2 separate regions of the Homo sapiens genome follow, and region 1 is linked to region 2. The links come from fine-mapping of genetic effects on gene expression. Tissue or cell type: adrenal gland. Region 2 holds a variant in brackets; the other region holds the start of a gene. All regions are shown on one strand. Distances are from middle to middle.

The links. PIP is the estimated chance that this variant, and not a neighbour inherited with it, causes the effect. A credible set is the group of variants that fine-mapping cannot tell apart.
Region 1: S100A16 starts here. The variant in region 2 is the best candidate, but not a certain one, in a credible set for the expression of S100A16 in adrenal gland (GTEx, PIP 0.63).

Annotation. Positions count from the first base shown.
Region 1 is chr1:153,611,247-153,615,627 of GRCh38, forward strand. It overlaps S100A16 (S100 calcium binding protein A16), which reads right to left and starts at 1,891. Exons shown (of 3, transcript NM_080388.3): 1 at 1,706-1,891. It overlaps S100A14 (S100 calcium binding protein A14), which reads right to left. Exons shown (of 4, transcript NM_020672.3): 3 at 3,989-4,135; 4 at 3,009-3,776. The coding sequence ends at 3,639.
Region 2 is chr1:153,585,877-153,590,257 of GRCh38, forward strand. No RefSeq gene overlaps it. Among named protein-coding and RNA genes, the nearest start is that of S100A2, 22 kb to the left of the region's middle. The variant C/A (reference allele first, on the strand shown) is at 1,688.

The DNA of each region.
Region 1 (4,381 bases), 25 kb after region 2:
GGTTCTGGGCTCCACGCCCTCCAAATGCCTCCTAACCACCCCTAGCATCCCCAGGCTCCTTCCGTCTGGAGCTCCAAACATCCACCACACCGTCCTAAGTCCACCTTCTCTTCTCACCCCACAGACACCTCTGGAGTCTTAAGTTTTTTCCAAGTGTTGGGATGTGTCCCTAGACTCCTGTCCCTCCTGGTCACTGTTCTCTCCAGAGCCTAGCCCACTGTCAAGCCTAAGTATGGATTCTCTGTGTCCCTTCCATCTACCTGGAATTCATTTGCTCACTTAGGCACCATGAGTTTGCTTACTCATTCATTTATTGGCTCATTCATTCACTCTCATTCATTCACTTGCTCATTCAATAATGCATTCACTCTCTTGCACATTCATTCATTCATTCCCTTTTTCATTTACTCATTTGTCCTCTCTAACTTCAATATATAGGGAAGGTGCCATCCGAACTGGGCTGACAATGCCACCTCTATCAGCAAGGCTGTTTCAAATGAAATTTCTCCAGCCTCAGCTGTTCCATTCTCTGCTCCTTCCTGTGTTCTTTCTCCAATTCCACAAGGCCCTCTCCAGGAACAGCTCCCGGAGCATAGTGGGGCCTGCTTGGCCCTGCCTCACCCCTTACCATCCTCACAGGATTCTGCGTCTAACTCTCTTTGTCTCTCTCTCACACACACACACACACACACACACACACACACACCGAGCAAGGACCTCGGCCATTCCTGATCCCCTCTGCTTGGGTGACCCATCACCCTTCCACTCACTTCAGTTCTTGGAGCAAGAAGCCAGCCTCTGAAATTTTTCCAGGCAAGTGAAGTTGGAGGAGTTCAGTGTGGATCTTGCCCCCGCCTCCCCCAACACACACACAGCTACCCCAGCCTCAACAACACTTACTAGAATGTGGGGAAAGGCAGAGCCAGCTCCCCAGCACCCCTGCCCTCACCACCATCCCCACTGGGCTGGGCAGGGGAAGGCTCCCATAGTGCAGGTGGCTCTGCCAAGAAAAGCAGCTCAAGCCGGGGCCTGCCTGGGTCCTGAGGTGGAGGAGCTGCCGAGGTTCAGCCCCCCTCTCTCTATCTTTCCCTCTCCCAGGGAGCTTGCAGGCTCCCCACAGCCTCACTCGGGTTCCTCCCAGATCTCATCATCCCTCTCAAGGAACAGCTCCTGGAACACAGTGGGGTCTGCTTGGGTCGTGAGGTAGAGGGGACGCCACCTCAGCCCCCGCCTCCTCTTCTCGGAATCTCAGGCTCCCTGGAAACTGCCTGGTTCCTTCTGGACCCCATCACCTCCCCTAGGACACAGCTCCCAGAGCCCAGCAAGGCCTGTGTCCAAGCTCTGACCACCCCCAACCCAGACCAACACGCATTTGTCCTCTCCTTTTGGGGAGGATCGAGTAGCTGTGGTCAAAGCTTCCAAATACTCTGCCCCTGGAGAGGAGCTCCGTCAGCTGCTGCGGCAGGGAGGGGGTCTCACCATCCCATCCATCCCTCTAAAGGCCTCACCCAGCCCCCAACCCCCCAGGACTCCCCATTCCTAAACTGGCCTGTGGGAGAAAGTTAATAATTACCAAAATCTTCCTGCCTGCTCTCTGGCAGGCCCCTCTCCCCAGGCCCCCTTCACTGCCCCTTCTCCTGGCCTCCCAATACTGTGGGGCCCTCCGGCAGCCGAAGACCTCCCAGGCCGGGCCCAGGGTGCTCACCTGCTGCCTCAGTCTGCCTCCTCTCCAGCAGGGCTCTGGGGCCTGGGCTCTGGCACTGCCAAGCAGCTCCCTGCGCTCAGCCCAGCCGGGACTCCTCCCCGCTGCACTCCCAGAATCTGTCCCACTCCCTCCCAGCCCTGCCCGCTGAGCTGGCTCGGTGGGGAGATAGTGGCTGAGCTCCTTCTTGACTTGGCCCTGGGGTTGGGCCCTTGTTAAAGGGATACACACCTTTTTTCACACCCCTCTACCCCCATCCCAGAGGGAGTGGTGAAAACTGGCACTCCCCCAACCCCACCCTCCCAGCCCCGCAGGGGCTGAGCAGAACCTGACAGGGTAGAGAAAGGAAGGGAAGGACTATCACCTGCCTTTCTCACCTGGGTCACTGGGATCCCAGTTTCAGGGGCTCCCAACAGACAAGTTCAGTTAACATTCCAGGCCAGCCTAACTGGCCACAGAAACCTCCTTGCCACTGGGGTTTCAGGAGTAACGCCCGACTTCTGTGCTCAAATCAGAAGGCAGATGCCAGGGACCTGTCTGGCTCCCTGGTCTTCTGTCTCTAGTCTGACCCATCAGCTCTACTGAGACCCAGCCCTAAGATCCCTCATGTACACCAGAAGACTCCTCTGGAAACTCCCCACACCCCACCGTTTCCCTAAGATACCCAAGGAAACTGGCCAGCTCGACCTCCCTACACTAGGGCAGCAGCTGAAACCAAAGAGGGGCCCACTTGCCCACTCCAGCGGGAATGATATTGGGTCACTGGGCACTCACCATGTGTCAGGCTCTCTGTAAGTGCTTTACATGATGTGTGGCATTGTCCTCCTGGCAATCCTGTGGAAGTAATATTCATATCCCCCATTTTACAGATGAGGAAACTGATACTAAGAGCATGCCCAAAATTCCAATGATAAGTGGCAGATCTGAGATTCAAACTCAGGCCAGTCAGCCTGTTTCTAACCGCCCCCCACCCCCACCCACCCCATTTCCCTGGTTGTGCCAGCCAGGGCTCAGAACACCTGGACTAATATCCTTTTCCCCAAGTGTGCACACATACCCTCCTCTCCTATAAGAGGGCCCGCCCATTGGCAAAGAGGAGCCTGTCCCTCAGAGAGGACCATGTTGCCCTTTTGGACCTGGTACCACCCTCAACCCAAACCCATAGGGAAAAGTGAGTCCCCATTCACTTCCACAGCCAACCACTCCAGCCCCACGTGCCCCACCCTACCAATGACTTTGCCTTTCACCCCCAAGCTCCTCTCACCCGTGGACCCTCAGGGAGGGGGTGTCCAGTCAAGACAACATGTTTCACTTTTTTCATTTTTTTTTATTAATCAAATGATACAAAACAACCATCATTCTGTCAATGCCCAAGCACCCAGCTGGTCCTCTCCCCACATGTCACACTCTCCTCAGCCTCTCCCCCAACCCTGCTCTCCCTCCTCCCCTGCCCTAGCCCAGGGACAGAGTCTAGGAGGAGCCTGGGGCAGAGCTGGAGGCAGGAAGAGAGCACTGGACAGACAGCTATGGTTTGGATTGGGGAAGAGATTAGGAAGTAGGTTCTTAAAGACCCTTTTTTAGTACCAGATATCCAGCCATATTCCCAGCTCCATTATTCAAATCATTTCCCATAGCCCAGCTCCTCTCTGTTCTCCCCCTACTACCAATTCTTTGGCTCTTACACAATTTTTATCCCTCAAATATTCATCCCTGGCCCAACCAGTCCCCTGAGCCTCCCTCTGGTGGAGACTCCTCCACCCATGAGCTCCCCAGAGCATCCAAGACAGAGTGCACAGAGACCTGGGGAAGGAAGCTGAACTTTGCAGAGATGAGGACAGGTGCAGGCTAGGGTACAGGGTGGTGGTAGAGGAGACAAGTTTTATCTCCAGGCCCACAGTCTCTCCCCAACACCCCCCAAGAATTCCAGAGGGAGTTCTCAGTGCCCCCGGACAGGCCTCTCCAGCTTCACACTCTTGGCCGCTTCTCCAATCAGCTCCCAGAAACTCCTGAACTCCAGTTTAGAGTCATTGCAGCTGCCCAGGTTGGCAATTTTCTCTTCCAGGCCACAGTTGCTCTGAGGGGAGTGAAGAAACCATGGCTCAGGGATGCAGCACCTTCCAATCTTCCCACCCCACCCTGCCCACGGGCAGACAGCAGGAGCAGAGGCTACCTAGCACTGGCAAGGGGGAAGAGCTGGGGGTTGCAAGTGCCAGTGTGGGTGGGGTCCCGGAGCACTTGCTTGGGAAGTCAGGGTACTGGCTGAGGTGGGGTGTGCTCCGTCCATACCGGCATGAGATGGGGCAGCTGCTGGGTGACCAGGTCCCGTAGCTCAGAAGGGGTCAGCGTCTCCTTCCCACCCTCCACGGAGTACTGGTGAAAGTTCTTGATGAGGGTCTCAATGGCCCTCTCCACATCACTGAATTCCTGAGCATCCTGAGGGCAGGGGACATCACAAACATCAGTGAAGCTCCATGCACCCCAAAACCCTGCTTCTCCAGGAGCCTAGCAAAGCCCCCAGGGCAGAAGGCAGCTGGAAGGCACACAGCTCCCACCCACTCCAGAGCCCAGAATCTAGCCCCTCTCCCCCACCCCCTGCTCGGCCTCCAGGCCACAGCAGCTACAGGTTGGGGAAGGCTTCCCTCCCCACACCCCCCACCGCAGGCAGAGCAGGTCCCAGCA
Region 2 (4,381 bases):
ATGGTGAAACCCCGTCTCTACTAAAAATGCAAAAATTAGCCGGGTGTGGTGGTGTGAGCCTGTAATCCCAGCTACTCAGGAGGCTGAGGCAGGAGAATTGCTTGAACCCAGGAGGCAGAGGTTGCAATGCACCAAGATCGTGCCACTGCACTCCAGCCTGGGTGACAGAGTGTCAATAAAATAATAATAAAATAAAATAAAGAGCATAATCATTGGGAAAAATAAAAGATGGCTACAACTGGAGAATAAATGGATGAGCTAAATGATCAGACTGAGAAACTCTCCCAGAAGGCAGAAGTAGAGAACAAAGAGAATATTTTTAAAGGAGCTAAGTGCTATGGAGAATAGAAGTAGAGTGCTCATATCAGGATAACAGGATTCCCCAGACAGGGAATTAAAAAAAAAAAAAACAGAGAGGAGGAAATAATGAAGTAATAACATTGAAACACTTCTGAGAATTAGAGAAAAAGATCTCAGATAGAAAGGGCTCATAGAATGCTAAATAGGGTAACTGAGGAAAAAAACACATTTAGACTCATATTGAAGTGGAAGAAGATCAAATTCAATTAAAACTCTGAACATTTCCAAAAGCAATAGATTGCCTACAAAGGAATTGAGAAGTAGGTCCGTTGTGCACTGGTTTCAACCTGTCTGAGTCAAGTTAAACAGACACACACAGACACACTCAAGTTACATGAAGCAGGTTTATTACTTACAGATTGAAAGCAGGGGACAACAGAAGCCTCAGATTCATGGCAGGCTGGTACCCCAAGGCTCAGAAAAGCTGCCCAGGAACTACCAGTCATACTGGATTAGAAAAAGAGGAAAAAAAGAAAAAAGAAAAGCTGCCCAGGGCAGATGGAGTCTCAGTTACATGTGCCCCACTTGCATCTCAGCTGAGGGACTCCAAAAAGCATCCTAAGGCTGGGCATGGTGGCTCACGCCTGTAATCCCAGCACTTTAAGAAACTGAGGCAGGAGGATTGCTTGAGGCCAGCAGTTTGAGACCAGCCTGGGGAATATAATGAGACTCCATCTCTAGAAAATAAAAAACAGGCCAGGCGCGGTGGCTCATGCCTGTAATCCCTGTAATCCAACACTTTGGGAGGCCAAGGCAGGCGGATCACCTGAGGTCAGGAGTTTGAGACCAGCCTGGCCAACATGGTGATACTCCCATCTCTACTAAAAATACAAAAAAATTAGCTCGATGTGGTGGTGGGCACCTGTGATCCCAGCTACTTGGGAGGCTGGGGCACAAGAATCGCTTGAACACGGGAGACAGAGGTTTTAGTGAGCAGAGATCGGGCCACTGCACTCCAGCCTGGGCAACAGAGTGAGACTCCGTCTCAAAAAAAAAAGAAAAGGAAAAAGAAAAAAATCAGCTGGGCATGGTGGCACACACCTGTACCCCCAGCTACTTGGGGGACTGAGGAGAACAGATTTCTTGAGCCCAGGAGTTCAAGGCTGCATGAGCCGTGATTATGCCACTGCACTCCAGCCTGGACCACAGAGCGAGACCCTGTCTCAAAAAACAAAACAAAAAAAGCAGCCTGCCCTGGATTTACACCCCTGGGGCAATGTGACATGCTTGGCTAATGAGTTGAAGGACATCCTGTTTCTAGGGGTTACTGGAACGGGGCCCAGGCTGTTCACCAGTCCCTCTTTATCTCGGGATGTTGTATCTCAGC[C/A]CATTCTACAGTTATTCCTGAGAGCTCCAAGTGATAAAGGGGAGATAACTGGATAAGGCCAAGGCCATGGGGAGAACTGTCCTGCAGGAACACGAATCAAATTGACATCAGACTTCTCAATAGAAACACTGAATACAAGAAAGTGGCAAGGTTTGTAAGTACTGAAAGAAATTTTAGGCTAGGTGCAGTGGCTCACCCAGTTAATCCCAGCACTTTGGGAGGCTGAGGTGGGAGGTTCACCTGAGGTCCAGACCAGCCTAGCCAACACATTGAAACCCCATCTGTACTAAAAATACAAAAATTAGCCGGACGTGGTGACATGCCCCTGTAATCCCTAACTACTCAGGAGGCTGAGGCACAAGAATTTCTTGAGCCTAGGAGCCTAAGGTTGCAGTGAACCAAAATTGCGCCATTGCACTCCAGCCTGGGAGACAGAGCAAGATTCTATCTCAAAAAAAAAAAGAGAGAGAGAGAGAGAGAGAAAGAAAGAAAAAAAAATTCTGTGTAGCCAAATAGTCATTCAAATTTGAAAATATAGTAAAAAATATTCTCGGCCAGGCGTGGTGGCTCATGCCTGTAATCTCAGCACTTTCAGAAGCCGAGGCGGGCAGATCACCTGAGGTCAGGAGTTACAGACTAGCCAGACTAGCCTGGCCAACATGATGAAACCCCATCTCTACTAAAAATACAAAAATTAGTCGGGCATGGTGGCGCGTGCCTGTGGTCCTAGCTACTCAGAAGGCTGAGGCAGGAGAATTGCTTGAACCCGGGGAGGCAGAGGCTGCAGTGAGCTGAGATTGCGCCACTGCACTCCAGCCTGGGTGACAGAGCAAGACTCTGTCTCAAAAACAAAAAAAAAATTATCGCATTACAAAAGCCTCAGAATGTTTGTCACACAAAGACCTACATTTACAGTTCTCAAAGTATCCAAATAAGAAGAGAAATAAGTTCAAGAGGATAGGATGATGCCTGCAATATAGGAAATAAACATGATTAAATGACATAATAAAATTGAATATCAACAAAAGCTAAAAGGGGGAGAGAGTCTGAGAAAGAAGAGGTGGAGGAGAGTGAGAGATAATCAGAATGGAATGATTGGTTGGAGAGTAGAGTCTCTAGTTACTGTGTCATATATTTGCAGCTGGACTCCGTCCCATAGATGAGCTGAAGCAAAAGGACCTTCACACAGAACTTTTATCATCAGCCTGAGGAAAAGTACTCGAAGGACAAGGCCATTGGTTGGGAACTTACACCAAAAAAAAAAAAAGAAAAAAAACCTGAATTATAGATACTATGAATATGATGAAAATAAGCAGAACGGACCGGGTGCAGTGGCTCACACCTGTAATCCCAGCACTTTGGGAGGCCGAGGCAGACAGATCACCCGAGGTCAGGAGTTCGAGACCAGCCTGGCCAACCATGGCCAACATGGTGAAGCCCCGTCTCTACTAAAAATACAAAAATTAGCCAAGCACAGTGGCGCACACCTGTAATCCCAGCTACTCGGGAAGCTGAGGCAGAATTGCTTGAACCCAGGAGGCAGAGGTTGCAATGAGCCAAGATCGTACCACTGCACTTCAGCCTGGGAGACAGTGCAAGACCCCATCTCAAAAAAAAAAAAAGAGGAAGGAAAAGACAAGACTGATGGGATAGGAGGGTGTGAAAGGAACTTTATTATTAGGAAGAATATAAATAATTAAAAATTATTCAATGAAGTAGCATAAAGTCAAATTAAAGCAACTACATTAACAAGAAAATAGAATGTATAGTTTTCAAAACATGAGAAGAATGTTGGCTCTATGTAATGGAAAGTAACAAAGGTGGGGAAAGAAACAACAAAGAAGGCACAGTACATGAAAAATATAAAATTAAATGGCAGAATAAGTCCTAATATTATAGTAATTGTAATAAAGATGGGTAAAGTAAACACACTTCTTAAAAGACAAACGTTCCTGGGTTGAGTTTCTTCCTTAAGGTTCAGCAATATGTTGCATACAAGAGAAACACTGAAAATAAAAAAACTTTATCACGGGCTGGGCGCAGTGGCTTATGCCTATAATCCCACCACTTTGGGAAGCCAAGGCAGGCGGTTCACCTGAGGTCAGGAGTTCGAGACCAGCCTGACCAACATGGAGAAACCTCATCTCTACTAAAAATACAAAAAAATTAGCCAGGCGTGGTAGCACATGCCTATAATCCCAGCCGCTCGGGAGGCTGAGGCAGGAGAATCGCTTGAATCTAGGAGGTGGAGGTTGCAGTGAGCCAAGATCACACCATTGCACTCCAGCCTGGGCAACAAGAGTGAAACTCCATCTGAAAAAAAATAAAAAACCATTTCAAATATTTAAACAAGAAAATAGAAGGAATAAACAAAAGGAAGAAAATACATGAAGCAAATATAAACCAAAAAAAAATCAGGGAAGTAATTTTAATATTTGACAAAAGAGGATACAAGAGGAAAAATATAAAAGACAAAGAATGAGGTAATACAAGAAAATACAAACACCAGGAACATAAAAGCACCTACTCATATAGCCTCAAAATATATAAAACAACAACTGATAAAATTTCTGAGGCTGGGTGTGGTGGCTCATGCCTATAATCCCAGCATTTAGAGAGGCCAGGGTGGGAGGACTGCTTGAGCCCAGGAGTTCCAAGACCAGCCTGGGCAGAATAGTGGGACCTCATCGCTAT